Homo sapiens: one gene and its partners. The protein of the gene in region 2 interacts with the protein of the main gene of each other region in a biochemical or structural test. Each region holds a gene or a part of one and is shown on either strand. Other genes may lie near its edges.

Region 1 (8,810 bases), on a different chromosome or scaffold from region 2:
CACTCCAGCCTGGGCAACAAGAGAGAGACTCCATCTCAAAAAACAAACAAACAAACAAACAAACAAACAAAAAAAACAGAAATACATTAAATTTTTTTTTCTAGAACTACCCACGCCACTCATTCAATGGAATGTCATTTACTGAATAAATATGTATCGCCATCAACCATGTACCAGGCCACTTTCTTGAAGTTGGGAATATAGAAATGAATAAAGCAGACAGAAGTCTCTGCCTTCATGCAACTGTTAAAATTGCATGAAAACTATTTCTATTGTATTTCCCTGGATCCTATGACTACACAAATTTAAAGACAGATGTAGGTTTTAAACAAAGGTTCAGCATTGTACAATAGAAATATAATGTGAGCCACATTGTGATTTAAAATTTTCTAGTAGCTAGTTTTAAAAAGTAAAAAGAAACAGGTGAAATTAATTTTAATGTTTTACTTTATATATTTTTGTCATGACTCACTGCAAGGTTTCCACTTCTCTTCACCTTGAAATAAGGGACAAAAGTAGAAATAGAGTTATCACTTCCACAGTGCCCTGAGGCCAATCTCCTTCAAAATAAAGGAGACTTTTCTCCTGAGAGACAAGTTGCTCAGAAAGGTCATGTTTTCTCCAGGTGATCAGGCTGAATTTCACAACATAGCAGGTTGATAGTGGAACCATTATAGCACATAATGAGCCCTTCAAAGCTTTGCTCAGAGCCAAAAGAGAGGCTTGAAGACTAGAATAAAGAAGAAGGTTGGGCTGCAGCTCCCTTCAGGAGAACACTCCATCTATATTGCTCCATATGTGGTAAGCCCATGAGTGGGTACAGGTTCAGTCCTTGGGGCTGTGAAGTGCAAGATCAAGGTGCCAAGAGATTTGGTTGTTTGGTGCGTGCTGTTCTCTGCTTCCAAGATGGCACCTTGTTGTCAAATCCTCCAAAGGGGGTGGAACGCTGGTCCTCATGTAGCAAAAGAATATGTCTAGATAAATCTAGGAAATTAGTTTGAGGTCTTTGATTTAAATGTTACGTATTCAGGTCAATTACCACTACCAGAAGCCCATCCTTCAAAAGTTTTTCGTTGGAAAGTTCTATAAAATTTGTTAGAACTTTATATACAGAATTTGAGCCTTTAAAAAATTTGCTGAAAAAGTTTCAGCACCTTTAGAAATAATGTAGTCAAACAGCAGTTTCTTCCCTACCTCTCCAATTTTATGGATAAAATTAATACTGTCTTAACAGGTTAAGACATATTAAATATTGAAATATTCAATATTTTCCCTGATACATTGAATATGTCCATAAAGTTCTAGATATCCAGTACTCCAGGAAGTACTATAACACCAAATTGTAATTTTTATTATTTATGCAATAAATTTGATAAGCAAATCCAAGAAAGATCAGTGGGAATGATTAAGAAACAAAATCTCTGTTGCTCATCACACTTTGGGAAAGTCGCTCATTATTATTATTATTATTATTATTATTGAGAAGGGGTCTTGCTCTGTCAGCCAGGGTGGAGTGCAGTGGCGCAATCACAACTCACTGCATTCTTGACCTCATGGGCTCAGGTGATCCTCCTACCTCAGCCTCCCGAGTAGCTGGGACTACAGGAGCATGCCACCTCACCTGGCTAATTTTTTGTAAAGATGGAGTTTCACCATGTTACCCAGGCTGGTCTTGAACTCCTGGGCTCAAGTGATCTGCCCACCTCGGCCTCCCAAAGTGCTGGGATTACAGGCGTCACCCATCATGCCCAGCCTAATAACCTATTTTTATAGAACTGTATGAAGGACATATTTCAAGAGGTAGTGGTGACATAATACCTGTAATCCCAGCGTTTTGGGAAGCCAGGGTGGGTGAATTGCTTGAGCCCAAGAGTTTGAGACCAACCTGGGCAACATAGTGAGACCCCATCTCTACAAAAAATAAAAAAATTAGCTGAGCGTGATGACATGCACCTGCAGTCCCAGCTACTTCGGAGGCTGAGGTAGGAGGATCCCTTGAGCCCAGGAGGTTGAGTCTGCAGTGAGCCGTGATGGCACCACTGCACTCCAGCCTGCGCAATGGAGGGAGAACCTGTCTCAAAAAAATAAAAATATAAATAAATAAATAAATAAATAAAATTTTAAGTAAATGTTTAGATACAGAAAGGACCTTGGCGATTATCTGGTGCATATTTCTTAAGCTGTGGTTCAAAGACCCTCTTCTGTGAATGAGCTTTAGGATGAGAAATTTGAGTGTCTGTGGATACAAGCATTTTTCTATAGAAAGAGCCAAAGCTTTTACCGTATTCTTAAAGAGATACATGTGCCAAAACATTATTTGTCCTAAGAGGGTTGAGAACCTGTGATCTGACTGTATTCTCTCATTTGTTATATAAGGAGACTGAGGTCAAGAGAGGTTGAGTAACTTATACAAAATCATAGTGACAACAGAACTGGTCATAGACCCAGGTTCTACGCATATTGCTTTTCCAGAACACCAACACATTGCTGAGGTTTTGTTCTTGCTTGTCTGTTAATTTCTTACACAATATAAAATGAATTAAACTGTTTTCACTTTTTATTCTTTCCATCTTTTTTTCCCCTCTTAATTATCATTCACTGCTGGTTGGTAAGGAGGTGGTAAAATTAGTGCACTCATATATTGCTGGTGGCATTCTAAATTAGCAGTCTCTTGGAAAATAATATGAGATGATAAATTACCAATAAAACATTCATTGCCTTTTCGCTTAGTAACTTTTATACTGAGAAAAAAAATTCTAAAATTGAACAAAGCCACACACACAAAATGTTCATCTAAGTATTATTTTATAATACTGAAAACTATCCATATAGTGGTCATTCCATTGACTACTAAGCAGCCAATTAAAATTAAGGTTTTACATTAAACGATGGGTGGAAATGCTTACAACACAAAAGGGACACAAAATCTACTTAAATTATGATTACAAGTTTGTAAAAAGTACGCACAGGAAAAAAAAACTAGAAGTAAATACAACAAATGTTAACTGGTAATTTTTTTCTTCTTCTTTTCTTGATGCCAAATCTTAGGTAATGCAGTTATGGCCATAATTTTTAAAAGGTAAATAAAAACAATACTATCATTGACTCCAAATGAAATGGACTTTATATTTCCCACAGATTTATCACCTTAAAAACACTCAAATACTTTCCCTTTGTAATAAAATGTCATGAGCATTAGGGCACTGTCTTCGGAATTACATGTAAGATTACCAATTACAAGTTAGTTGGCCAAATAGGTACTCAATTTCCCTATTACAAAATTGTAAGCTGATGGGGGGTGTGCAATTTAATTTAATTTTTTTTTAGACAGGGTTTCACTCTGTCGCGCAGGCTGGAGTGCAGTTTAAATTCATTTAGTTTAAACATGTTCTTAGTGTAGGGTCTGCTTTAAGGTCTAGTCATATGTTCTTATTTTGATATTTCTGTTTAGTAGAGCTGTAAAATGAAAACAAGCATGTGTTCGTTTAAAATCAATTTCTAGTTTCTACACACACACAAATTCAAGCTTGCACACGAGCTAAACCAGCAGGGGGCGAAATACAATAGGCATAAATTTGACAAGCCATATAGATTTTTCTTACTTTAGTGACTGAGCAATAACACAAAATCCAGCATAACCACAAAGCAATTGATACTCCCATTTAAAGTGATGCAGTCTCCGTATATCTTACAGCGATTGAATAGTAAAGAGACAAATGCGGGTCCATTGGAGCGCTCCGAGTTAATTTGTCTAGAACATTGCAGAGGCGGGATAAATCGTGATGAACTGCTATTGTCCTTATCTTTCTCCTGATTTGTATAATTCCTCCACCCAAAGGGGTGGACACTTCTCTGTGCCTGAGGGGATGTTTTCCATTCTTGTTTCTTTGCGTAACTGCTGAGCTTTGCTGTTTTGGAACTATTTTAAATTATTCAAATTACTGATGCAGACGTTTGGCAAATATGGGCAGAATGAGGGGCCGGCGGGGGTCATGATTTGTAGGACCCCGGGCTCATCATCCGAGACAGTAATCATAATCCTGTAGCCTTGTAGTCTGATTGTTACACTGGCAGGTGTTCTAACAGATATTCATTGTAAAGGAGGAGGAAAGGTAATATTTTTATTACCTTTATATAAATAACAGTTGATTATATAAATAATCAACTGTTCAGGACTGATGATGGAAACAAAATCGGTTACGACCTCTGTTCCAGAAATGCGTTTGAATGCATAAGTTTATGGTGATCTCTTTAGCTTCACTAGATATTCTCCGTAAGGGTCTATGAAAAACGACCACCTTCTCCATCCATTAGCCAAATTCCGGACTACTATTTTCTTGTCGGTCTCGAAGACGATTTGTCAGTTTGGCGGCTGCTTTCCCACCTTAAATTCTATTTATCGCAACCTCTTGTTATTTGTTAAATATCAGCTTCTTCCTCTGTCGGCATAAATTTAAAAAGAGGAAGAGACAGGCTGTGAATGAAAAAGTCGTTTTTCGGGGCGAAAAGGGCAAGCTGACGAATGCTCTCTAGTAGGTTTTTGGTAAAAATGTGGTTCTATATTTCCAAACCTTTACAATTTTATTTGGAGAGCAAGAGACTTAATCCGGTCTTGAGCTGAACGTTAACCGGCTGAAAGGAGCACCTGTCCTTCGCCAGGAGCGCAGCCTCAACCGGCGCCTGAGTGCGGGAAGACGTCTATCCCCCTACAGCTCTATGACTCGCAAGGAAGTAAAAGGAAAGGGCAGCTTGCCCGCACCCAAAATGGCGGTCGGCGCTCTGCACGACAGCGCCTGCGCAGGGATAAGCGTTCTGTGACACCAATTCCCCTGGAGTGTCCTCCCCCACCCCACAGCACCCACCAGCGCCCGGTCCCGACCTAGCCACCTGCGCCCGGAAGTGACGTGTCGGCGGCAGCGGTTCCCCCGCTGCATGATGGGAGAGTGTGTGGAGTGGGCGGGGGGTCTCCGCGGAGGAGGTGGAGGAGGCGGCGGCGGCGGCGGAAGAGGGCGGAGGGTAGTGGGATGGGGGTCCCGCGGCAGCGGTGAAACTCCGGGTGGGCGTCCATGGTGCTGCTGCGCTGACAGGGCTGTGAGCAGCCGGCCTTCCGCTCTCACCAGTTCCGCGTCGGAATAGACGGTCCTTCCCCGGGGAGTCAGTTCCTCCCCGGGCCCCTGAGCCATGCCCATCGCAGCCGCCCCGAAGGAGCCAGGTAAGCGCCGCCGCTCCGCTCCCCTAGCTGCGCCGGGGAAAGAGGGTGCGGGGACCAGGCCCGGCCCAGCAGCCAGACCCTCACCCGGGCCGGGAGCATCTGCCCGCCGCGGAGCCGGGAGCTGTGAGGACGGAGCTGGCTCTGCGGGCCTGCGGGCTCCCGGCTCTGCTCTCTTCTGCGGCGAGTGCGGGAACGCCGCTGGTGGCGCCCGAAGCGCACGGCCCCCTCCTCGCCATCCCGGGCACCGGCCGGGTAAGTGGGAGTCCTTCCCTCCCCGGCCACCGCCGGCTCTCCCTGCCCCTTTGCTTCCACCTCCCAAAGCTCCGCGCTGGCTGCGTTCTCCAGGGAGCTGTTCAGAAGTTTGGGGCTTTGCTTGGGCTTCTTCGCTCTCCTTCCCCCTCCCTCGTGACAGGTGTAAACACTGCCTCCTTCACCGAGGCCCGAGGCTGGCCGCGACCTGAGTGTGCTGCTTCCAAGGGTCTCTGAAGCAAGCGAATTTGGAATCCTCCAACAGGCAGAGGGGACAGCCCCAAAGCTCACGCATCCCTTCCTCAGAGTACCTTTTCTGCTGTCTTCTTGCACTCTTCAAGAAATTATCTGCGTCTCCTCTCCAGTTTGCGTTTGAAAAGTTGGACCATATTCCTTAAGTGCCTGGTTTGGCAGGTGCTGCGTCTTGCTTGGGGCAGAGGCAGAGTATGGAGTGAGGGGTGGTAGGGTCCTTGCTCTATTAGGAAAGTAATGGGGATAGCAAGGTTTTTTTTTCCTTGTTGCTTTGTGCAAGTTATAGCTTGGTTATACTGAATCTTTTCTGTTGGGGCCGAGGGAAGAACTGACTCATACATGTAAATTTTTTACTGGGCGGGGGGATGAAACAAAAGTAATGGTTCCGTTTCAAAGTTCTCACTTTAGGAGAAGTAAAGTAGAACTTTGGTTTTCAACTTTTCCTACAGTGTAAGTCTTCCTTCCACCTCCTATTCCGAGGATTTTATTTGGTGGAGGGGAGACACAGAGTTTATCTTTGATGCTACACTTAATTGTTGCTTTCAGTTAACCTCTTAGACATTAAAATATATGCTAAACTCTAGGGACAACAAATGTTTCAACATTATTATGTTAATATAATTAACACAGTCACGTACATTTTATATGCTTTACCAGTTTAAATGTTGGCTTTTTTAGTAGTCATTTTTAACACTTCGCAGAGGTATATTTGTTTAAACAAAGTATCTGTGGTAGTCTCCTAAATTTTGTTCATAAAGATATTTCACATGGATTAAAAGACAGATCTTGTGTAAAACATCTAGCCCAGTAAATGGCACCTAGCAGATATTCATTAGCTCTAGTTGTTCCTCCGTGGATTAAATTAGATATATCAGTTGATCTTCAAAGTACACATATATTTTTAAATCTTCAAAAACCTCTGGAAAAAAATCCACTACAATTCACATAATATGTAGGGCATTTAAGTTTTAATGTTTGCTGATCTTTTGACCTAGAGACTGTTAAAAAATAATCCCGTATCACAACAAGGATAATATGTCCTTAATAGCCTTGATACATCTTGCCGAATCCAGTTTTCGTTATGAAAATTGTATAGTGTGGGTGAATCATATCATAAAACATCATTTTACATTTTCATTTGTTCTGCTTACATTTAGTGAAAAACTAGTTCAGAAATGTAGTGACATTTGAGTACCAAATAATGTTTTATTTTGTGTGAAATCTAAAGTGCTTTCCTCAGCAGGCAAAGTCTTTGAATAGCTTCTCATTAAGGGATTGCCCCTTCTCTCCCAACCCTTCCCCCAAATCTCATAAAAGGAGGCCGCTAAGTATTTAGATATTTTTTAATCATCATAAATTATTTAAATAAAATGTTTATATTCTAATTTAATGTTACCTACACTTTGTAGATTAAAAAATAAAGGTTTTTCCCTCTATTCTTAGCACTTTCAATTCCTTTTTAAGTAGAATAGTGAACCTTTCTAGCCGGAACTTTATAAGTATTTTTAGTTTTTACACTATTTTGAAAATCTGGCATTGTATGGATTTTACATATCTCATTTTGCTAATCATTTTCTCAGTTTGTGCATATATCAGATATAGTCACAAGTTCTTTTGCAGCTTTATATGATAATTGCTAACACATGAGCAGTATATATGTTGCTCATATATATTGCTTCCTATGAGCAAGATAGTTTTCTAAATGCTTTATATACAGTGTACTAACTCAATCCACACAACAACCTGTAAGGCAGTAAGTAGTAGTATCCCTCATTTTTCAGAGAGGAAACTGAGGCACACAGATACTAAGTAACTTGCCTTAGGTCAAACAGCTGTTAAGTGACAGATCCGTTTGCTAGACCATTTATATAGTCTCATGCAAAACTATACTATGTATTGTCTGTGATTTGTGCAATATGTAGCAAAAGTATAACAACATGCATGGGAATGATAAACACCAAGTCAGACTAAAAGTGACCTTTGGAGAACTTGAGAGGGATGAAGGATCTAGGAGGGGCCCATGGGTTTACAAACATATCTTTATATCCTTAAAAAAAATCCGAAGTTGACTTGTTAAGAGATTAAGATTTAACACACCTGGGTGATGGTTACTGGCTCATTCATTATGGCTTTTTTCTCCCTAAGGTTTGCATGAAGTTCTTCACAATGAAATTAAAAGTTTAAAGGCCGGGCATGGTGGCTCACACCTGTAATCCCAGCACTTTGGGAGACCGGGGTGGGCAGATCACCTGAGGTCGGGAGTTCAAAACCAGCCTGACCAACATGGAGAAACCCCGTCTCTACTGAAAATACAAAATTAGCCGGGTGTGGTGGCACATGCCTATAATCCCAGCTATTCGGGAGACTGAGGCAGGGGAATCGCTTGAACCCGGGAGGCGGAGGTTGCAGTGAGCTGAGATCATGCCAGTGCACTCCAGCCTGGGCAACAAGAGCAAAACATCATCTCAAAAAAAAAAAAAGAAATTAAAAGTTTAGGTATTTAACTTTAAAACATATATAAAGTATCACTCTTCTTTCAGCATTGTATATTTAAAAAAAGGACAGGAAAGGAGTTAGTATTATTTTGTGTTGACTTTCTTTTAAAATACAAGGAGCTTCTAAGTTAAAAAAATGTTTTTAATTAAGAATTGTTTGCCTCTCCAGATTCCTCTGCATTAACTTCCCTTGCCTGGACTCTTCCCTATTGCTGGCAACCATTTAACAGCCCTTTGTCACACTCCTAGTGTCTATTTCTGGCCTTTCCCTTCTAGGGTAGGGGCTCATAGGTCTGTGGATTAGACCTATTCCCAAGAAAAGGGAAAAGGTCAGAACTAAGTGGGGAGGAAGAAAGGAGGTGGGGAATCACTGCTTATTGATTTGGGATAATTGAGAAGAAGAGGGAAATAATGATTTAAGACTCCATCCTATGGTTGTCAGTCACTGTCACCCTTGTTCCAAATAGCTAACTTGAAGATAAACCTTGCAAAGATAGATTGCTAATTAATTAAAGGTTAATTTACTAGCACTGTATTTGTGAATAATTCCCATCGGAAAATTACACAGTAAATGAGAATTAATTTACTGTAGGTTCTATTTA
Region 2 (8,302 bases):
AACAAATTCCTAGCAAAGTGTTGTTTAGTGCACCATTGATCAGTGCATATTTGAATGTCTGCTTTGCGTTTAGGAAACCTCCGTTTTCTTTTGGGGGCAGTTGCTTGTTCTTTGGTCTGACCTCTGTCATTGATAGCAGTTCTAGATTTGAGGGCAGATTTTAGAGTGAAACTTTAAAGTACAGAATTTGCCAGGAATGCCTTGGTGATATTTCACCCCAGTGTTTATTTAAAAAAGGAGTTTTAAAAATCAGTGGTATGCAAACAAAACCAACTTCTTTATGATTTATAAAAACTCTTTTTTTTTTTTTTTATTATTTTTATTGTTTGAGACAGGGTCTCACTCTGTTGCCCAGGCTGGAGTGCAGTGGTCTCAGCTCACTGCAGCCTGGACCTCCTGGACTCAAGCGATCCTCCTGCCTCAGCCCTCCACGTAGCTGGGACTACAGGCGTGTGCTACCACGCAGGGCTAATTTTTGTATTTTTTGTATAGATAGTGTTTTGTCATGTTGCCCAGGCTGGGCTCAAGCAATCCTCTTGCCTCGGCCTCGCAAAGTGCTGAGATTACAGGTGTGAGCCACCTCACCTGGCCAAAACTTTTAATTTATACAAATTTAAAAAGTTGAATGAGTATTTTCCAAGATATTATTTTTAATTAAAAAAATTGAATTGGCAATCTACATACCAAAACAGATTTTCCACAATGCTTAATCCCCTTATTTGCATTTGATGAGGATTTTAAAATTTTGTGTATATAGCAGGACTTAATTGCTATCAAAACTTTAAAACTCTTACTTAGAGCTTCAGAACATTTAAAAATACTGTTTTAGGTGTTTGTAATTTAGTCTGTCCTTGCTTTATGAATTGTTTTCAGTTCTTTTTTGTTTGTTTTTTGAGACAAAGTCTTACTCTGTCTCCCAGGCTGGAGTGCAGTGGCTCGATCTCGGCTCACTGTGCAACCTCCACCTCCTGGATTCCAGTGATTTCTGCTGCCTCAGCCTCCCGAGTAGCTGGGATTACAAGCGTGCGCCACCATGCCCAGCTAATTTTTGTATTTTTAGTAGAGGCGGGGTTTCACCATGTTGGCTAGGCTGGTCTCGAACTCCTGAGCTCAAGTGATCCACCCACCTTGGCCTCCCAAAGTGCTGGGATTACAGGCAGGAGGAGCCACTGCGTTCAGTCTGTTTTCGGTTCTTGATTTTGGCTTTCTTTATTCTCTGTTGCTTTTACTCAGTTTCTAATGCAGAATAATGTTGAAAGTAGCAAACAATTTTTTTTCAACTCCTCTCAGCTTATAAGTAACAAGCAATTTTATTTTTATTGATTGATTGATTGAGACAGGTTCTCACTCTTTCACCCAGGCTGGAGTGCAGTGGTGCAATCTCAGCTCACTGCAGCCTCGACCTCCTCCCAGGTTCAAGTGATCCTCCCACTTCAGCCTCCTAAGTAGCTGGGACTGTAGGCATGTGCCGCCTGATTTATTATTTTTTTGTGGAGACGGGGATTCGCCATGTTGCCCAGGCTGGTTTCAAATTCCTGGGCTCAAGAGGTCCTCCCACCTCTGTCTCCCAAAGTGCTGGTATTAAAGGTGTGTGCCACCATGCCTTGCCCACAAGCAATTTTAAACTTAAGAGAGCAGGCTGGTGCAGTGGTTCATGCCTGTAATCCCAGCACTTTGGGAGGCCGAGGCAGGCGGATCACTTGAGGTCAGGAGTTTGATACTAGCCTGGTCAACATGATGAAATCCCGTCTGTACTAAAAATACAAAAGTTAGCCGGGCATGGTGATGTGCACCTGCATTCCCAGCTACTTAGGAGGCTCAGGTGGGAGGATTGCTTGAACAGGGAGGTGGAGGTTGCAGTGAGCTGAGATCACGCCACTGCACTCCAGCCTGGGTGACAGATGGAGGCTCTGTCTCAAAAAAAAAAAAAAAAAATTAAGAGAGCATATAGAAATCTTTTGTATTTCTTGGCTTACAGGTTTTGAAATGATCTTTGTTGGCTGGGCGAGGTGGCTCATGCCTGTAATCCCAGCACTTTGGGAGGCCGAGGCGGGTGGATCACGAGGTCAGGAGATCGAGACCATCCTGGCCAACATGGTTAAACCCCATCTCTACAAAAAAATAGAAAAATTAGCTGGGCATGATGGTGCGCGCCTGTAGTCCCAGCTACTCGGGAGACTGAGGCAGGAGAATCACTTGAACCTGGGAGGTGGAGGTTGTGGTGAGCTGAGATCACGCCACTGCACTCCAGCCTGGGGACAGAGCGAGACTCTTGTCTCCAAAAAAAAAATAAATAAATAAAATATGTTTATCAAAATGTAGTAGCATTTTTACAGTTGCCTTTTTGTATAGAAAATTTTATTTCAATGAGGTCAAGAAATAGAAAAGGGAAAAGAGGTGTCTTTTTTTTTTTTTTTTTTGAGACGGAGTCCTCCTCTGTTGCCCAGGCTGGAGTGCATCGGAGCCATCTCTGCTTACTGCAACCTCCGCCCCCTGGTTCAAGCAATTCTTCTGCCTCAGCCTCCCGAGTAGCTGGGACTACAGGTGTGCGCCACCATGCCTAGCTAATTTTTGTATTTTTAGTAGAGACAGGGCTTCACCCTGTTGACCAGGCTGATCTTGAATTCCTGGGCTCAAGTGATCCACCAGCCTTGGCCTCCCAAAGTGCTGGGATTACAGGCATGAATGAGGTGTCATTTTTACTTTGAAGATACGTGTTAAGTTTTTTTCTTCACTGACCTAGTAACACAATACACTTAATATGGCATGAGTTTTGGTTGCTGGAAAAACTGGTTAAAGTTTGAAGGGTCCAGAAGTGGGAGAAAAAAAACTCACTTGCCAAATGTGTTGAGTCAGCATTAACTAACACTTTAGCATAAAAGGGCAAGGTTTAGGATGAGATGATTGAAATGAGAAATGCTTTTTTTCACTAGGTACTTGGAAATTTTACTTTAAAAAAAAGCCTACTCAGACCATTGGAGAGATTTAATTAGTAAATCATAAATGTTGGCAACAAATTAAGTAGGTTTAGAAGGAAGAAGTCATTTTTTTAAAAGATGAGGAAAAAATACATGTGACTTTTGTAATTTATAAATAAAAACATCTTATTATTTATTTATTTATTCTTTTTGAGACAGAGTCTCACTCTGTCACCCAGGCTGGAGTGCAGTGGTGCCATCTCAGCTTACTACAGCCTCTACCTCCTGGGTTCCCGCGATTCTTGTGCTCAGCCTCCCGAGTAGCTGGGACTGCAGGCGTGCACCACTGTACCTGGCTACTTTTTGTATTTTTAGTGGAGACGGGGTTTTGTCACGTTGGCCAGGCTGGTCTCGAAATCCTGACCTCAGGTGATTCACCTGCTTCAGCCTCCCAAAGTGCTGGGATTATAGGTGTGAGCCACCGAGCCTGGCTAAAATATTTTAAATCTTTCAAAGATATGTAAAGATGTTACGTGTTTTCTCAACCTAAAAATAAACTTCGCTGGCCAGACCTGGTGGCTCATGTCTGTAATCCCAGTACTTTGGGAAGCCAAGTCAGAAGGATCACTTGAGGACAGGAGTTTGAAACCAGCCTGGGAAACACAGTGGGACTCTGGCTGTACGAATTTTTTTTTTGAGACAGAGTCTTGCTCTGTCACCCAGGCTGGAGTGCAGTGGTGCGATCTCGGCTCACCTCAACCTCCGCCTCCTGGGTTCAAGCGATTCTTCTGCCTCAGCCTCCCAAGTAGCTAGAATTACAGGCGCCCGCCACCATGCCCAGTTAATTTTTGTACTTTTAGTAGAGATGGGGTTTCACCATGTTGGACAGGCTGGTCTTGACCTCCTGACCTCAGGTGATCCACCCACCTCGGCCTCCCAAAGTGCCGGGATTACAGGCATGAGCTACCGCGCCTGGCCCAAAATTTTTTAAAGTAGCTGGGTTGTGGTGTCTTTGCCAGTAGCCTTAGCTGCCTGGGAGCCTGAGGCAGGAAGATCACTTGAACCCAGGAGTTCAAGGCTGCAGTGAGCTAAGACTGTGCCACTGCACTCCAGCCTGGGTGACAGAGATAGACTGTCTCAAAAAAAAGAGGTAAGTAAAAAACGCTTCTTTTGCTTCCTTTTAAGACTGAACACTTTTTCAGTTGTTTAGTTTTGAGGTTTAGTTAAATAGGTTCACTAACTTGAGCTGTAAAAACACTAATGGAACTCCTTTTACTTTGAGTTGTACAACTGTATAATCATTTATATAAGTTAGCTCTTTCAACCAAATACACATTGAGTATCTCTTATCTGAAATGCTTGAGACCAGAAATGTTTCATATTTTGGATTTTTTCAGATTTTGGAATATTTGCGTTACACCACTTGTACATCCCTAATCCTAAAATCCAAAATCTGAAACACTTGCAGAGCATTTTTTTCTTTTCTTTTTTTTTTTTTTTTTTGGTTACGGAGTCTCGCCCTGTCGCCCAGGCTGGAGTGCAGTGGCGCAATCTCGGCTCACTGCAAGCTCCGCCTCCCGGGTTCATGCCATTCTCCTGCCTCAGTCTCCAGAGTAGCTGGGACTGCAGGCGCCCGCCACCACGCCTGGCTAATTTTTTGTATTTTCAGTAGAGACGGGCTTTCACCATGTTAGCCAGGATGGTCGTGATCTCCTGACCTTGTGATCTGCCCGCCTCAGCCTCCCCTGCTGGGATAACAGGCGTGACCCACCGCGCCCGGCCTTGAAGAGCATTTCTTCAAGCATCATGTCAACAATCAAAAAATGTCAGGTTTTGGAGAATTTCAGATTTTGGATTAGGGATGTTTACCCTATAGTGTTTACCCTGTAGTGTTACATCATCTGTTCTATGACAGTCTTAATTTTAACCCCAAATTTTAACAGATTATGAATGAATTTACGCTTCAATATTTCTCTCAATGCTTAGTTAAGTACTGTACATACTCACGTAAGTGTACATAGGAATTTTTTGTTTTTACTAAAGAGAGATCATATTATTTATATTACTCTATGACACGCTTTTTTTTTTTTTTAACATGTCATGGTCAGTAAATATAATTCTTTTTTTTTGTTTGTTTGTTTTTTTTGAGATGGAGTCTTACCCTGTCACCCAGGTGGTGGGAATCTCCGCCTCCTGGGTTCAGTGATTCTCCTGCCTCAGACTTCAGAGTAGCTGGGATTATAGGCACCTGCCACCACACCCAGATAATTTTTGTATTTTTAGTAGAGATGAGGTTTCGCCATGTTGGCCTGGCTGGTATCAAACTCCTGACCTTAAGTGATCTGCCTGCCTTGGCCTCCCAAAGTGCTGGGATTACAGGCATGAGCCACCGCGCCCAGCCAATATAATTCATTTTTGTTTTGTTTTTTTGAGACGGAGTTTTGCTTTTGCTGCCCAGGCTGGAGTGCAATGGCGTGATCTCAGCTCACCGCAACCTCCGCCTCCCAGGTTCAAGTGATTCTCCTGCCTCAGCCTCCCGAGTAGTTGGGATTACAGACATGTGCCACCATGCCCCGCTAAGTTTGTATTTTTAGTAGAGATGGGGTTTCTTTCTTTTTTTTTTTTGAGACGGAGTCTCGCTGTGTTGCCCAGGCTGGAGTGCAGTGGCGCGATCCCAGCTCACTGCAAGTTCTGCCTCCCAGGTTCACGCCATTCTCCTGCGTCAGCCTCCCGAGTAGCTGGGACTACAGGCACCCACCACCACGCCTGGCTAATGTTCTGTATTTTTAGTAGAGATGGGGTTTCACCATGTTAGCCAGGATGGTCTCCATCTCCTGACCTCGTGATCTGCCCACCTTGGCCTCCCAAAGTGCTAGGATTAAAGGCGTGAGCCCCCGCACCCGACCCGAGACGGGGGGGTTTCTCCATGTTGGTCAGGCTGGTTTTGAACTCCCGACCTCACATGATCCTCCCACCTTGGCCTCCCAAAGTGCTAGGATTACAGGTGTGAGCCACCGTGCCTGGCCAATATAATTCTTTTTTTTTTTTTTTTTGAGATGGGGAGTCTTGCTCTATCACCCAGGCTAGAGTGCAGTGGTGCGATCTCGGCTCACTGCAAGCTCCACCTCCTGGGTTCACGCCATTCTCCTGCCTCAGCCTCCCGAGTAGCTGGGACTACAGGCGCCCACCACCACACCCGGCTAATTTTTTTGTATTTTTTTTTTTAGTAGAGACAGAGTTTCACCATGTTAACCAGGATGGTCTTGATCTCCTGACCTCGTGATCCACCTGCCTCGGCCTCCCAAAGTGCTGGGATTACAGGCGTGAGCCACCGTGCCCGGCAATATAATTCTTTATTATTATTTTTTTAAAAGATGACATTTTGCTATGTTGCTCAGGCTGATCTCGAACTCCTGGGCTTGAGCAATCTGCCTGCATCGGCCTCCCAAAGTGCTGGGGTTACAGGCGTGAGCCACCGCACCCAGCCAATATAATTTTTTATTATTATTATTATTATTATTATTTTTAAGATGGAACCTCGCTCTGTCACGAAGGCTGGAGTGCAGTGGCGCAGTCTCGGCTCACTGCATGCTCTGCTTCCTGGGTTCACGCCATTCTCCTGCATCAGCCTCCCGAGTAGCTGGGACTGCAGGCACCTGTCACCACACCCCGCTAATTTTCTGTATTTTTAGTAGAATTGGGTTTCACCATGTTAGCCAGGATGGTCTTGATCTCCTGACTTCATGATCCGCCTACCTTGGCCTCCCAAAGTGCTGGGATTACAGGTGTGAGCCACCGCTCCCAGCCTATTAGTTTTTTAATAAGAGATGAGATATAGCTGTATTGCTCAGGCTGGTCTCAAACTCCTGGACTTGAGCAGTCTGCCTCCTGTGGCCTCCCAAAGTGCTGAGATTACAGGTGTGAGCCACTGCACTCAGCCCACAGTAAATATAATTCTATCTTGTTCCTTTAAACAGTCCTATTGTGTCTTATAGCGTGGATGTACCATAATTTATTATTTTCCTGTGGACATTTAGATCATTTCTAGATTTTTGCCACTTAACAAAGTGCTACAATAAATATCCTTGTACATGCCGCCTTATATGCTGATGCTTTTATTTCTGTAGTCTCCAAAGGGGGAATTCTGGGTTAACAGAGAAATATATTTTAAATATTATTATTGCTAGATTACTCTCTAAATAGGTTATCATAATTTTCATCCCAAATAGCAGTAACTTCTCCATATCATGAAACCACTGGGTATAAATACATAGTTTAATTTTTACTAGTCTGCTAGATGATAAATGGGTCATGCAGTTTGTCTTAATTTTAACTTCCCTGTTACTGGGGCTAGCCTTATTTGATACGTATAATAGCCATTGGATTTCCTTTACCGAGAATTGTCTGCTCATGTCCTTGCTTCATTTTTCTTTCTCTTTTTTTTTCCTCCTGTAGGAGCGCTTATGGAATGTTAATTCTTTGTTATATGGCACGTGTATTTTTCTTGTCTTTCATTTATCCTTTTTTTTTTTCCTGGGAGACAGAGTCTCACCCTTGTCGCCCAGGCTAGAGTGCAGTGGTGTGATCTCGGCTCACTGCAGCCTCTGCCTCCTGGGTTCAAGCAATTCTCCTGCCTCAGCTTCCTGGGTAGCTGGGATTACAGGTGCCCGCCACCATGCCCGGCTAATTTTTGTACTTTTAGTAGAGACAGAGATTCGCCATGTTGGCCAGGCTGGTCTCAAACTCCTGACCTCAGGTGATCTGCCTGCCTCTGCCTTCCAAAGTGCTGGGATTACAGGCGTGAGCCACCGCACCACGCCCGGCCTCATTTATCTTTTAATCTTATTTATGTCACAGACATTTTCAGGTAATTATATATATCCCTCTTTTCCTCTTTGGTTTCTGAAACTGTCTTAGAATCCATTCCAGCTGGGTGCAGTGGCTCATGCCTGTAATCCCAGCACTTTGGGAGGCCGAGGCTGGCGGATCACGAGGTCAGGAGACTGAGATCATCCTAGCTAACAAGGTGAAACCTTGTCTCTACTAAAAATACAAAAAAATTAGCTGAGCGTGGTGGCACGCGCCTATAGTCCTGGCTACTCGGTAGGGTAAGGCAGGAGAATTGCTTGAATCTGGGAGGCAGTGTAGAGACACAGTCTCACTGTATTGCCCAGGCTGGTTTCTAACTCATGGCCTCAAGTGATCCTCCCACCTTGGCCTCTAAAGTGTTGGGATTACTGGCGTGAGCCACCGCACCCAGCCTTAACAGTTTTTGATGATAATTTTTCCTTGCTGTAGTGTGTGTCTGTTTGTTCAAGTTTATTTTAGGTCTTTCAACAAATATTTTATAGATTTCGTAGTTTTTTTCGTATAGTTCCTATACC
Region 3 (8,854 bases), on a different chromosome or scaffold from region 2:
GTATTAACACACATGATCACAAGGTCGCACAATAGGCCACCTGCAAGCTGAGGAGCTAGGAGAGCCAGTCTGAGTCCCAAAACTGAAGAACTTGAAGTCTGATGTTCAAAGGCAGGAAGCATCCAACACAGGAGAAAGATGTAGGCTGGGAGGCTAGGCCAGTCTATTCTTTTCACGTTTTTCTGCCTGCTTTATATTCTAGCTGTGCTGGCAGCTGATTAGATGGTGTCCACCCAGATTAAGGGTGGGTCTGCCTTCCCCAACCCAGTGACTCAAATATTAATCTCCTTCGTCAACAGGCTCACAGACACACCCAGAATCAATACTTTGCATCTTTCGATCCAATCAAGTTGACACTCAGTTTTAACCATCACAGTTTGTAACTTGAGCAATGACACATGAACTAGCAAAATGTCCTATATCCACTGTTACTTCTTTGTGCCCAATCACTGAATGCCAGTACGTCTCCAAGGACTCACGCCAGCCTGTCCTTAACAGGTCAAAGAATTAAAACAATATCCTAGGGCAAAGTTTCATGAGACACCAGGGATCCTACAGGCTGGGACTTCATTTGGGAAGCCAACTGGTGAGCCAATCTTCTCTTGCTGCCCTCACCTCACAGCTCAGTCCTTCTGGGAGTCGGAACTACCCAAACTCAGCAAACAGTCTAGTATAGAACCTTGAGCAAACGGTTCCTGTTCCAGCCTAACACCGCCTGCTGCTGCCACCTCTGCCATCCATGCAGCCTCCCTAGCCTCCAGTCTCTCTCTGCCCATGCCAACTGTCCCTTCCTGGACTGCTCAGGTCCTAGCAGTCAGATTTCTGCTCAATTTCTAGTTCTGGACACTATGTCCCGTTACTGTTTACGGCTCTGTGTCTCCCAGACGATGGAGAAAGAAATGTGACTTAGTCAAAATGGAACAAAAATGAAAACCAACCAATCAGCTAACCAACTAAAACAAACATAATTTTAAAACCATACACTTTTCATACATACATTCAGCTAGTCTAATGCCAAGGGGAAACCTTATAGGAAAAAACCTCTCCTGCTTCTCTTTATTCCTATAAAGATTCTTCAGAGCACTTATAAAAGCACCTGGCACATTAGACATTTATTTGTAGTTTATTGACTTCCCCCACCCTCTACAGATTGTTAAGTTCTAAGAGAGCAGGGACTTTTGTCTCCCTCACCTGTAACAGCATCCAGTCCAAGGTGAGGACGTCATACGTTTATTAGGATTGGAATGGCACCAGCTGCACTCCTTTCCACGTTTATTTTCAAGGTCACCCCAAGGTTTTCTTTAACCTCATTAAATTCATGCCCTAAAGTGAGAGGAGGTATCCCCTTGTGCCAGACCCAGGCTGACTCTGTATTGTTACACATTATTCTCATCCTCCGATCCTTACATTAGGTGACCATCACACATTTTCACTCCGTTCCACATTAGTTCCCATAGTTGCACTTTCCCATGCTAGTTTCCCATTAGTTGACCAAGCATTTAGTTGGGCTCTGAGCTCTTAAAAACCAAAGGAGAATCTAATTTTGAATAAAAACACCTGGCCATACTGAACAAACGCAGGGAAGAGGTGGTGGTCATTATTTTCCTGTCCCCCCAGCTGTGTGGCTGGACGAAGCTTCCTGTGAATCCTAATCACTTTACCTCCTGTGGCATGATTCAAAAAAAAAAAAAAAAAAAGCAGCTAGAGTACAAAGCCTAAACAGAGTGGCTCTGTTGCTCTGCCTCCAGGTCTTTTTCTTTTGAAAGTGCAATCTAGTAATAACCAAACGCAGTCTGCAAATGCAAATCCAATTGCTTAACTAATTGTGTTCTCACCCCTGGAGTAATGGAAGTTCATGCTGTAGAAGAAAATCTGAACTTAGCATGGCCCAGGGTTCTGGGTTCTGGGTTCTAAAGGCAGGCCTGCGTAGAGAATCAACTCTAAGGAAGCTCGCTCAAAGGACGGAGGTGGACAGAAGAGAGATATGCATGGTTGATCAAGTGGGAGCAGAAGACAAACGCCACCACCGGGTGCAGTGGCTCACGACTGTAATCCCAGCACTTTGGGAGGCTGAGGCAGACGGATCACTTAGGATAAGGAGTTTGAGACCAGCCTGGCCAACGTGGCAAAACCCTGTCTCTACTAAAAATAAAAAATAAAAAATAAAAAAAAACTTAGCCAGGCATGGTGGCAGGTGCCCGTAATCCCAGCTACTGCGGAGGCTGAGGCAGGAGAATCACTTGAACCTGGGAGGCGGAGGCTGCAGTGAGCCGAGATTGGGCCACTGCACTCCAGCCTGGGTGACAGAACAAGACCCAGTCTCTCTCTCTATATACAAATATATTCTATGAAAGTGGGTCTCCTCTATAACATTCATGAAGTAATGTTGATTTTGACTGACGTATATAAAAATAAAACTCCTAAGTTTAGCAGTATTTACTGGAGATATACTACCCAATTCATTACTAAAAATGTGAAAAAGATTTTAGTTATGTTCAAGATCCCTTCGGTGTGGCTTATTGTGAAAGTGCACATGTTTATCTCTTTTTTTTTTTTTTTTTTTTTGAGTCGGAGTCTTGCCCAGGCTGGAGTGCAGTGGCTCGATCTCGGCCCACTGCAACCTCCGCCTTCCGGGTTCAAGTGATTCTCCTGCCTCAGCCTCCTGAGTAGCTGGGACTACAGGCGCGTGCCACCATGCCCAGCTAATTTTTGTATTTTTAGTAGAGACGGGGTTTCACCATGTTGGCCAGGATGGTTTCGATCTCTTCACCTCGTGACCCGCCCGCCGCAGCCTCCCAAAGTGCTGGGATTACAGGCGTGAGCCACAGCGCCCGGCCATGTTTATCTCTGTTTATGTACTTTTTCATTTGTTTTTCACAGTCTTGCTCTTTTTAAAACAACAACAACAACAAAAAACTTCTAGAAATGAGGTCTCACTATGTTGCCCAGGCTGGTGTTGAACACCTGGGCTTAAGCAATCCTTCCACCTTAGCCCTCCACCATTACTTCTAAAAAATAAAACCAGGGTTATGAAATTGTTCTGGTGGGAAAAGCTTGAAGTCTCTAGTCTTCTTGCTTTCATGGTGCTGGGTGCCCAGGATGACTATTTGCATAGGATTTGCCAGATGAGCATGTGGAAAGGCCTGTCTTCACAGGTGTGCCCCTAACTTTGCACCTTCCTATCAAGGGATGCATTGTTGAACGGCTGCAGAGAGAGCTGTACCCAGCCTTCACATTTAAAAGAATATGGAAAACTCATTACTTATGACATTGCCTGAGTTCAAATCCTGGCTTTTCCACATACTAGTGTGTGCTCTTAGCCAAGTTATTTCTTCCATTGTTTATTAAAATATAACTGCTGTTTTTAAATGAAGTCATATATACACATGGTCAAAAACTCTGACAACAGGATCTGGCGAATCTTTCTCAGAAATTTTCTAGGAATGTGTCACATATTTCCTTTTTTTTTTTTTTTTTACATAAATGTACCATACATAATGTTCTTTTTATCTTTCTTAACACCTCTTAGAATATTATCATTTTCTTACGGGCTTCCTAGTATTTTTGTTTGAATGGATGTATCTTATTTACTGAAACAGTCCTGTTAACAAACACATAGGTTGCTTTCTGGTTGGAGTTATTACAGAACAATCTTTGATGAACATCTTTGAACACTTGTACAAGTGTTTGACAGGATAAATTCCCAGGAGGGCTGCTGGGTCCAAGGCTACGGTCATTTTCGATTTGAATAAGTATTACCAAATGGGCAAGTTATTTAAGTGATCCCTGAGTCGCTCTTCTTTGTAAACAGTGGACAATAATGAGTTTCTCAAATGTTTCTTATAAGGATTAAATGAGATGGGGATGTGGAAGCCTAGTATACAGCAAGCAGGCCGTCAATGAATGTTGGCCTCCCAATATTTTTTTTTACGGAGAAAGACAACTATTTATGCATATTATGATGACTATAGCTTAACCATGAGCTCAACAAACACAAAAATTCACAGAAAATTCTGCAATACCGTATCTATTTTAAACCCCATTATTGAATATAACTAGTGAAATCTCAGGTCAAATAGAATGTATTTAAGAAGACACAAACTTGACATTAAACACCAGAGATTTACATTTGATAGTTGTCTCTTCTTACAAATATATCCCTCATAATAATAAAAAAGCACTCCACTAGTATGCCAATTAAGACACATCTTCCAGTCGTGTTTTGTCCTTGAGTGAAAAATCTTGCTGCTCAATTCAAGTCATTCGTTTATTCATAACACCCATATATATATCTCCAACTCTGGAAAGAAACACTGACAGAAAGATGGAAAATTTTAGAGACCTCGTTTCCACTTCAGAGAGCCTGTTGTCCCCCAAACCTCTCGGGCCCTCCGGTATTTTTAAGCTTATCAAGATTCCAGAATGAGGTTAACGGGGCGTCACAGAACGAAACCCCCCACCGTCCCGTCCCAGGGGCTTCAAGCCAGGACCCCGGCCTGAGGGAGCCTCCGGGCAGGAGGAAGAGGCCCAGGAAGCCATCGCTCCGCTCCTTCCCAGCTGTTTATGTGGTACTCAGGGTACTCGGCCAAGGGCACGGCGACCCCGCAACACCCCAGGCGTGGGGCAAAGACAGCGGGGTTGCGGGGCTCCTGTCTGCCCGGGGCGTCGAGAGTTCCTGCCGCCCCCTCCCGCCTCATGCACGGAAAGCGCCGAGCCACGGCGTGCGGCGCCGGCCGAGCGTGAACCGGAGTCGGGGTTCGGCTACCCCGAGCGGCTCTGTGGGCCGCGGATCGCTTCCCCTGGGGCGGCCACGCAGGGTTGCGGGCCATGGCCTGGGGCGCCCGTCCGGACCCCGCCGCTGCGCGGGACGCCGCTCCCAGCCTCGACCAAGGGCGCCCGGGGGCGGCGGCGGCGGCGGCGGCGGTGACTGCCCGGGGCGGCGGCGCGGCGCGGGGGCGGCCAGGAGGCGAGGAGGCCGGGCCGCGGCCGAGGGCCCAGGGCGCGCTTCCGGCGGGCGTCGCGCGCGCCGCGGTAAATGGGAGGCTCGGCCGACAGGGGCGGGGGCCGCGCAGCCGGGGACTTTCAGGAACTGCAGGAGCGTGCGGCGCGGGAGTAGCCGAGCGCCCAGCGGCTGGGCCTGAGCGTCGAGACTCGGGGCCGAGGCGGAGGAGCGGCCGCCGCGCCGGGGCCCAGCCGGAGCCGCCGCCCTCGCCCTTGCCTTTGCCTGCGCGGCTCAGAATCACCATCCGCGGCGCGGGAGACGAGCCGGCCGTCCCGGGCCGGGGGACCCGCCCGCCATGGCCACCAAGGTGAGGGGCGCGCGGCGCAGGCCGGGCCGGTCGCTCAGGCCCGGGGCGGCGCGGAGAGGGTCGGGGCCGGGGCCGCGGGGAGGGTCGGGGCCAGGGGTGGTCGAGGGGCCACTCCGCTTCCTCGGTGGAGTCCCCGGGCGGGTCCGCGGCCCAGCCAGTCCCTTCTGGGCATGGGTGCGGCGGGCAGTGCAGACAGACCACCAGGATCGCACCGGGGGACGGCGTCGGGTCTGGGCGCGGGTTGGGACCCCGGGCGCAGCGAGGTTTGGGAAGTTTGCACCTGAGCGTGGGCTGCGGCGGGCTCGCCGGGAGGGGCCGCGGGACGGAAACTTCCCGCAGCCCGGGGAGGCCCCCGAGGCGACTGGCGCTCTGTGGCGTCCGGCGTCCCCGCCGCCCCCACGTCCCCTCCCGCTGCCGCCTGGGGGACCCTCGCCCCCGCGGGGCGGGTGGGGGTCGAGACCTCGGCGGAGAGGACGCGGCGCTTCCCGTCCCGGCCTGCGGGGGCTCGCGGCCGGGGAGGGACCGAGGCTGGGACGCCCCGCGCCCCTTTGCCTTCGCTGCTGTTATTTTTTTCTTTTGTTTTGCTACCTTTTCATTGTGAATGGCATTGCCGGCATGAATAAAATATCAAGAGGGAAATGACTGTGCTTTCGATTACGTGTTTGCCTGAAAAAAGGCCCAGGCCCGAATTACGTGGTGGAACTTTGACTCCTGCTTCGTCATTGGCTAGGAGCGGTGGTTTGCTTGTTTTACGTTATTGTTTATGAAATTAGCAGTCACTCTTGGCTACCTGAATTTTCAAAAGCCACCCTCCCCCGCTCCTTTTCCTTGGGCGTTTTCAGTAGTTACTTGATGTAGAATAGCCACTGGGGAAGTCACGGTCACGGAAGGGAGGACCTGGGGGAGGAGGCTCTATACCTGAGCCATTAACTGATCTGTGATACACTGTGAGGAGTGGGTTTACTTTTGCACTTAGTTTTTGTAATGTCACTTTGTTAGCATCAGCACCCCTTTGTCTATTTGTTTTTGAGATCTCTGAGCTACTTTTGGGTTGCTAGAAACGTTATTTTTTATTTTTCGATAGGTGTTTGCTTTTTTTGTGGAGTGTTAAGGTAGAAAATGGTAAGAAATGTGAAATCTCTTTGAAAGATCAGCATTGCTTGACTTCGGTCTGCTAGATGTTGTGCTGTGGTAAATTTTGTGCTCTGAATCCATCTAGGTGCAGCGTTTGTAGAGAAATGGGGATTCTCCTCCAGGGAACCTGTTGCTGCTGTTACTGAAATAATTACCTTCTTGTTAATATATTATTGCCTGTGCTGTGCTTTGGTTTTATTAATGCGATAGAACTTGCCACCTTTTTAACGTATTAATTTTGTGTTGACCTTTTTAAAAATAAAACTTAGGCCAAGGATTTCTAAGGAAATTTGATTTTGAGGTTTGTTGCCAGACATTCCAGAAATTACCAGTTACACATCCTAGTACATGCTCATCTTGCAACCTTAAAAGCGGTTTATAGGCCGGGCGCGGTGGCTCACTCCCACCTGTAATTCCAGCACTTTGGGAGGCCGCGGTGGGTGGTTCACCTGAGGTCGGGAGCTCGAGACAAGCCTGGCCAATATGGTGAAACCCTGTCTCTACTAAAAATACAGAAATTAGCTGGGCGTGGTGGCGCGCGCCTGTAGCCCCAGCTGCTCTGGAGGCTGAGGCAGGAGAATCGCTTGAACCCGGGAGGCGGAGGTTGCAGTGATCCGAGATCGCGCCACTGCACTCCAGCCTGGGCGACAGAGCGAGACTCCGTTTGAAAAAAGAAAAGACGAGACTCCGTTTGAAAAAAGAGAAGACGGTTTATGACATAGAGATCTGTCTAGTGGTGGTCAGTGTGTTTTTACACTCTGGTCTACTGAGGCATGTTATCTGTACTGTCCTTTAAGTGGAATGCAGTTTAGCAACTAGTGCAGGTATATATAGTGAAATTTTTATTTCATAGTTAATCCTGAACTTAATTTTTTTCCAAAAAATCGAAAAGTGGTTCTTGTATATTAATCTCGAATTGCATGTGTCTTTGATTAAACACGAGCCTTAAAGCATGCGTAAGGACTTCCTACTTCGTTATCTACACCACTCCAAAGGCAAATTCCAGTAGTTCTGTTAGTTTCTTTCGGCTGCCTAATCACTGTTCCACATGGTGCTCATTTCCATGTTTACATTGTGACAAACCATTTCCATTTTAAGAAAAAGAAGAGCAACGAAGCAGTTATTAAAAGAAGACCCTTCCTTTGTTTTCTGACATGCTGGTGATTCTTGTGTCAAACCAAAGTCTCATTTTTTAATTGTTCCCAGAGAGTCAAGTTGGTGCTTTCCTCCCTTCCCCCATATGCACACTCCTTCCCCACACCTGAGTAGTTGTGTTTTTTCTTTGTCTTCTTCAAGGGGTGGGGAGAATGTGCTTAGTAGTAATGACTAACTTTTAATAAAAATGTAGGCTCCAGTGGCACTCAGGCTGTTGCTATAAGTATTAACTGATGAAAAGTAAATTCAGTATCTGGATATTTTAAGGGATGTCGATTTCCCTTTGAATTTATCAGAGACTTGGCTATAGTATCTTCAGATACAATTTTCTTGTTTGTTCTTACGTATTAAGGATGTGGTTATCACTGAACTATTGGGATTTTTAAAAACTCCACTACTATATTTTACAATAAAAAAGGAAATTATCTTTTAGAAGAAGAACTTTAGTTTGACAGTCCTTCACTGCTAAAGAAAGTTAATCAGGGTCGGGCGCCGTCTCACGCCTGTAATCCTAGCACTTTGGGAGGCCGAGGCGGGCGGATCACGAGGTCGGGAGATCGAGACCATCCTGGCTAACACGGTGAAACTCCATCTATACTAAAAATACAAAAAAAATTAGCTGGGCGTGGTGGCGGGCGCCTGTAGTCCCAGCTACTCGGGAGGCTGAGGCAGGAGAATAGCGTGAACCCGGGAGGCAGAACTTGCAGTGAGCCGATTTTGCGCCACTGCACTCCAGCCTGGGTGACAGAGTGAGACTCCATCTCAAGAAAAAAAAAAAAAAAAGGAAAGTTAATCAGTAACTGCACATTTTAAGGGGATTATCTATTTTCTATTTCTACTCCTTACTCAGTAGAGTGCTGCATTCAGTTTAAGTGTATACACTCACTCAGTGCAATCAAGTCTTGTTTTACAAATATTAATACAAAAGCTGCAGAGCATTTTAGTCTTGACCTTTATTGGAAGCCTCCAAAGGTTATATTTCGACCCAGCCAAAATATAACCTATTTATATTATAGGTTTTATATATATATGATATATAAATATATTATATTATATATATATATTATATTTTATATATAAATATATATTATATTTTATATATATATTATATTTTATATATAAATATATATTATAGTTTATATAATATATAAATATATATTATAGTTTATATAATATATAAAATATATTATAGTTTATATAATATATAAAATATATTATAGTTTATATAATATATACATATATATTATAGTTTATAT
Region 4 (5,745 bases), on a different chromosome or scaffold from region 2:
ATAGGGTTTTAATTATCTTTTTCCTTAAGACATTGTAGGAAGGTGCTTAGTTTATTCTTCTTTAAGCTATGATGAGAAATGAGATTTCTGGTATAAAAAATCTAAACCAAACTCCCTCAAAAATATGAGTTTAAGCCAATTAAATCCTCCCTTAATTGGCAATAACTCAATAAACATTCAATCTCCTTTTAAGTATTGGAAAATGTTTAATCTCTACTAAGTTTTCCTTTTTCTGGAATAAGCTGTCCCTACTGTTTTAGTCTTTCCCTCTGGGCTTTTGGGTTATTTTCCCCACTGTGAACTGCTCCCTATTTGAACTTAATCTCTTGGGGCTTTGTAGATTCTTAGTTTTATTAATGTCATTCTAATCCTTGAGGAATAATTTATTATCTTTGATAAATTTACAACTATTTCTACTCAGTGAATTCATGATTACATATTTCATTCAGCAAAATTGTATTTTAGGATAACAGGCCTTTCCTTGGTCTCGAGAAGAAATAACTTCAAGCATATAAAGGACTCCAAATTACTAATTCTCATTTTTAAATTTGATTTTCCTTGAAGTAAATAACTTTTCAGTACTTAATTATAGTAAATAGTAATTTAGTAATTAATTGCATCAGGTATGCTTGGACTTGGAGAATTGTGTTTGCCAACTTAAATCAAAAGGAAATAGAAGAGATACAAACACTTGAAATTTAATTTTGTGCCGGGCATGGTGGCTCACACCTGTAATCCCAGCACTTTAGAAGCCCGAGACGGGCAGATCGCCTGAGGTCAGGAGTTCGAGACCAGCCTGGCCAACATGGTGAAATCCTGTCTCTACTAAAAATACAAAAATTAGCCGGGCATGGTGGCGGACACCTGTAATCCCAGCTACTTGGGAGGCTGAAGCAGGAGAATCACTTGAACTCGGGAGGCAGAGGTTGCAGTGATCCAAGATCGCGCCATTGCACTCCAGCCTGGACGACAAGAGTGAGACTTCGTCTCAAAAAAAAAAAAAAAATTAATTTTGAGTCTAAACATGACAAGTAGAGAATCTAGAAAATATAGGCAAAGGCTACTGGTTCAGACAATTCTGTTCAATCTTTGTTCCTTCTCCAACATTCTGCCCAACCCTGGGAAAGAATGCTCCACCCCACTTTTTTGATAATGCTACTTAATTTAGAATGCAGATAAAGATGAGAAGAGATTAGTGTTGCCAAAAATTTTGTTTTGCCAATTTCAGGAACTTTATCACTGATATTTGATATTCACCTTTGATTAACAGCTAAAGAATTAGGATCACCAATTCCTTTACACATTTATTTTCAGTCACATTTTTACAACTAAGTTATAAAAACTAAATTATTTTAAAAGCTGAGAAGCATTTAAGAGAGTATTAAACTTTTTTTGAGGTATATAGAATCTTGAGATGCAAAAGAAAATATTACTATTAATCTAAACAGATGAAATTTATGTTCATTTGTGAACAAGTATTTGCCATGCCTTGAAGATAAATCCCCCCTCCCCACCTCGATTAAAAAGCAAATTTATGTTATGGGCCAGGTACAGTGATTCACACTTGTAATCCCAGCTACTCAGGAGGCAGAGATTGGAGGATTGCTTGAGCCCAGGAGTTTGAGGCTGCAGTGAGCTACAGTTGCATCACTGCACACCAACCTGAGTGACAGAGCAGGACCCCTGTCTGTAAAAAAATAAATAAATAAAAATAAATAAATCCTAGCCGGGCACGGTGTCTCATGCCTGTAATCGCAGCACTTTGGGAGGCTGAGACGGGCAGATCACCTGAGGTCGGCAGTTTGAGACAAGCCTGACCAACATGGAGAAACCCTGTCTCTATAAAAATACAAAATTAGCCTGGCATGCTGGCGCATGCCTGTAATCCCAGCTACTCGGGAGGCTGACGCAGGAGAATTGCTTGAACCTGGGAGATGGAGGTTGCGGTGAGCCGAGATCACACCATTGCACTCCAGCCTGGGCAACAAGAGTGAAACTCCATCTCAAAATAAATAAATAAATAAATAAATAAATAAATAAATCTTAAAAATAAAATAAGTAAATTAATAAAATGCAAACTTAATGAGTAAGGCTGATGCTTCGGTTCCAGGTCTTTACATGCACCTAGTAGTTCTAATTGTACAGATGCTTTAAACCAGATGACCAATGAAAGAAAGCTAACTGTTTTTGAGGTGTCTAAGTTTACCTGTGAATGAAATTCTTATCCATCCATGCAGCATCCAGGATTGTTCTAAGAGCAAGGACGCAAAGTTGTAATTCTCTGAGGGAGGGACCATGCCTTCTTGTGCTCACCATTGCTATTTCCAAGTCCTTAGGACAATGGCTGCCATGTAGTGGATGTTCAGTGTGTATTTGTTGAATGAAAGACATATTTTAAAAGGAATATTTGCGATTTCATTAGGTGCTTCTGAGATTAATTAGAAATGGCTAGAGAGTTTATCACTTATTTTATTTGGACTTAAAATACCCACATTTTTTCTACCAAATATAAAAGAATCATTCATTTGGAGAGAGACTGGGGAGTTGGTGACACCCACTTTTGCATGTATTTACCAATTTTTGTGAACAGGGGCTTGAAAACTGTTTTACAAAGGAGATTTTCATTTAAATTTCACTATGCCTTCTTCACCTTCTAGCCAAACCCTCTACTCATACTTCTCAAAAATCCTAGAAGACCGTAATTGTCAGATTGTTAGTATTTTATAGCCTTACGATATGTAGCATAATATAAGAATGAGTGTTGAAATTGTGTTTTTTGCCCTTTTGCAGTTGGGTTCTTTGTTTTACTCTCTTCTCCCCCATAAAATAGCTGAGAAACTTTTTAAAAATTACCTTAACTGCCTGCACTTTGCTTCCCAAGGTGAAGATTCTAAAGACAAAAGGAGTGGCTCTTCTCTGCTTCTGCCTGTTTCTCTGCTCATTTAATGAGAAAAGAGAAAACATCACAACTAAAAGCTAATTTTGAATAACTAACAAAATGTCCACTGCACTTCAGTTCCATTCTTTCTCTTAAACCAGGGAAGGAATGATTTCTAATTAGCACTGAGTGAGCCTAAAAGAACTAAATCCCCTTCATATTAGATGATAAGGGGTTTATATTCACAGGTCTCTGAGAATACTGATACACCTATATCTACAATAGGTGACAAGATCTGGCCAAATTTGGAAAGACAAAAAGAAAACACTGAACACCATGTGAATGTGAATGCCTTTAACAGCCAAGTATTTAAAACTTGTCTCAACAGTACAGTTGCTACAAGGAGCTAATGACTGACTTTTGCTTCACTTCTATAGGACTCTGAGGAGGAAGAAAATGAGCTGGAAGCTATTAACAGGAAGCTAATAAGTTCACAGCCTTATGTACCTGTGGAGTTTGCTGACTTCAGTGTTTACAATGCCAGCTTGGAGAACAGGGAATGGTTTTCCTCTAAAGTAGATCTGTCAAACTCACGGGTCTTGGAGAAAGAAGTGTCCCGTAGCCCTACCACCAGCAGTATTACCAGTGGCTACTTTTCCCACAGTGCCTCCAATGCCACCCTGTCTGACATGGTGGTCCCTTCTAGTGACAGCTCAGACCAGCTGGCCATTCAGACGAAGGATGCAGACTCCACCGAGCACTCCACACCATCGCTTGTGCATGATTTCAGGCCGTCCTCAAACAAAGAGTTGACAGAAGTCGAAAAAGGCTTGGTAAAGGACAAGATAATTGTGGTGCCACTCAAGGAAAACAGTGCCTTAGCCAAAGGGAGCCCATCATCCCAGAGCATCCCTGAGAAAAACTCCAAATCACTGTGCAGGACTGGCTCATGTTCAGAACTAGATGCCTGCCCCAGCAAAATTAGCCAGCCAGCCAGGGGATTCTGCCCCAGGGAGGTGACGGTAGAACACACCACCAACATCCTTGAAGACCATTCTTTCACAGAATTTATGGGAGTGTCAGAGGGAAAAGATTTTGATGGTTTGACAGATTCTTCTGCTGGAGAGCTTTCCAGTAGGAGGAGTCTACCAAATAAAACAGGCGGCAAGACTGTCTCCGATGGGCTCCACCACCCCAGCCAGCTGCATTCCAAGTTAGAGAATGACCAGGTAATAATTCCAGAGGCAGCCTTTTGGGTTCTGTGCTGTCAATGAGTATGTCTAACTGTATGTCAACCCCAGAGGCCCTTCACCGCAACAACTTGGTAGGAAAGATTCATCCAGTTGTTTGTGACAGCAAAGATGAGCCCACAGAGAAGCAGGCTCACTTCCTGCACAGCTGTCTCTGTCGGAGAGCAAGTCTGTTTTGGGAACTAGAACGCAATTGTGAAATTATAAGACCAGTGGATTTTTTTACCTGGCACATGGGTTGGTGTTGAATGAAGTGTTCAGATGGATAAGGATCAATCTCATATTCATTCCCTGGGATGTTTAGTTACCAGTTTTCCCAAAGTGTTCTGGTAGCATCTACCATATTTCATCAAATCTGTGATTCCTTTGATTATTATATGAACCATTATTTTATGTATCATTAAGAAAAAATACTGCCAATTAAACTCTGTCATATCAACAGTTGTAAGACACCCCAATTTCAGAGATGGTAAAGTGTGGAGAGAAAAACATATATATCATAGAATTGGAAATAGACAGTCGTTTGGTGCCCGTAGGTGAAAAAGTGCTTTGGGGCGGTATAGGCAAATTCCAGCAGCAGTTGAAGTTTGGACTTTGGAAGTAACTCAGTTTATAATACTGGTTAATTTTCTTTTTTCTTTTTTTTTTTTTTTTTTTTGAGATGGAGTGTGGCTCTCACTCTGTCACCCAGGCTGCAGTGCAGTGACACGATCTTGGCTCATTGCAGCCTCCACCTCCCTGGCTCACGTGATCCTCCTGCCTCAGCCTCCCGTGTAGCTGGGACTACAGGCACGTGCCAGCACATCTGGCTAATTTTTTTATATTTTCACCATGTTGGCCAGGCTGGTCTCAAACTTCTGACCTCAGGTGATCCATCCCCCTTGGCCTCCCAAAGTGTTGGGATTATAGGCATGAGCCACTGTGCCTGACTAATATTGGTTAATTTTCATACGGGAACAAAATGAGTTTTTGCCACTATTACTAAGGAAAATCACAAATTACATAAATAAGAGATGTTCTGCTTCTGAGCATTCTGCTCTGAAGTACCACCATTTATTCCCATTCACATTCATTTGTTTGGTCCCCCAACTTGCTGTAAAAGGCATGGGAGAGTCATGGCTTAGCAAAATAAAGAACTGACAGAGCTAGAAAGAGGCTTGGTAAAAGTAAAATAATCATGCTGCTACTCTATCCCTTTGTTTTGCGAGCAAGTTACTCCATTGATGTGGCTTTTGCCCCTGCTTTTCATAACAGCCCTTAAAATTTCAATGTATGGTCATTTATACAGCATACTCATTACTGAACTGCCAAAACCTAAACAGTCATCTCTGACAAGAAAAAGACTTCCTTCCCCGACATAAGAATAATGATAGAGTCACTCACCACCATTCTTGCAAGCAATACATGCATTTGTTTAGGTCTTCAACTTTCTTTACCTGGATTAAAGCAGAAGCTACACAGCTGGTATACATCAGCTTTTCAACCCTTGTTCGTCAAGAAGGCCAGTGTCAAAGACTCTTTAATTCTTTACTGTAAGATTAGGTTTGCTTCTCAAACCTAAAGGTGCTACAAACTCTAGGGGCAAGGAGGGTGTGGCAGGCCTCTTAAAAATTCATA

What was found.
Region 1: the proteins of AP1G1 (region 2) and AFTPH form a complex in vitro, tested with the Homo sapiens proteins (one study listed by BioGRID).
Region 3: the proteins of AP1G1 (region 2) and SNX9 form a complex in vitro, tested with the Homo sapiens proteins (one study listed by BioGRID).
Region 4: the proteins of AP1G1 (region 2) and KIF13A form a complex in vitro, tested with the Homo sapiens proteins (one study listed by BioGRID).

What each region holds. Positions count from the first base shown.
Region 1 is NC_000002.12:64,519,401-64,528,210, forward strand, and holds the start of AFTPH (aftiphilin), read left to right. Parts: upstream 1-4,927; 5' UTR 4,928-5,212; intron 5,213-6,112; exon of another isoform or gene 6,113-6,165; intron 6,166-8,810. UniProt on the Homo sapiens protein: Component of clathrin-coated vesicles.
Region 2 is NC_000016.10:71,798,042-71,806,343, reverse strand, and holds part of AP1G1 (AP-1 complex subunit gamma-1), read left to right. Parts: intron 1-8,302. UniProt on the Homo sapiens protein: Subunit of clathrin-associated adaptor protein complex 1 that plays a role in protein sorting in the late-Golgi/trans-Golgi network (TGN) and/or endosomes.
Region 3 is NC_000006.12:157,818,138-157,826,991, forward strand, and holds the start of SNX9 (sorting nexin-9), read left to right. Parts: upstream 1-5,108; 5' UTR 5,109-5,297; coding exon 5,298-5,309; intron 5,310-8,854. UniProt on the Homo sapiens protein: Involved in endocytosis and intracellular vesicle trafficking, both during interphase and at the end of mitosis. Required for efficient progress through mitosis and cytokinesis. Required for normal formation of the cleavage furrow at the end of mitosis.
Region 4 is NC_000006.12:17,762,517-17,768,261, reverse strand, and holds the end of KIF13A (kinesin-like protein KIF13A), read left to right. Parts: intron 1-3,315; coding exon 3,316-4,152; 3' UTR 4,153-4,569; downstream 4,570-5,745. UniProt on the Homo sapiens protein: Plus end-directed microtubule-dependent motor protein involved in intracellular transport and regulating various processes such as mannose-6-phosphate receptor (M6PR) transport to the plasma membrane, endosomal sorting during melanosome biogenesis and cytokinesis.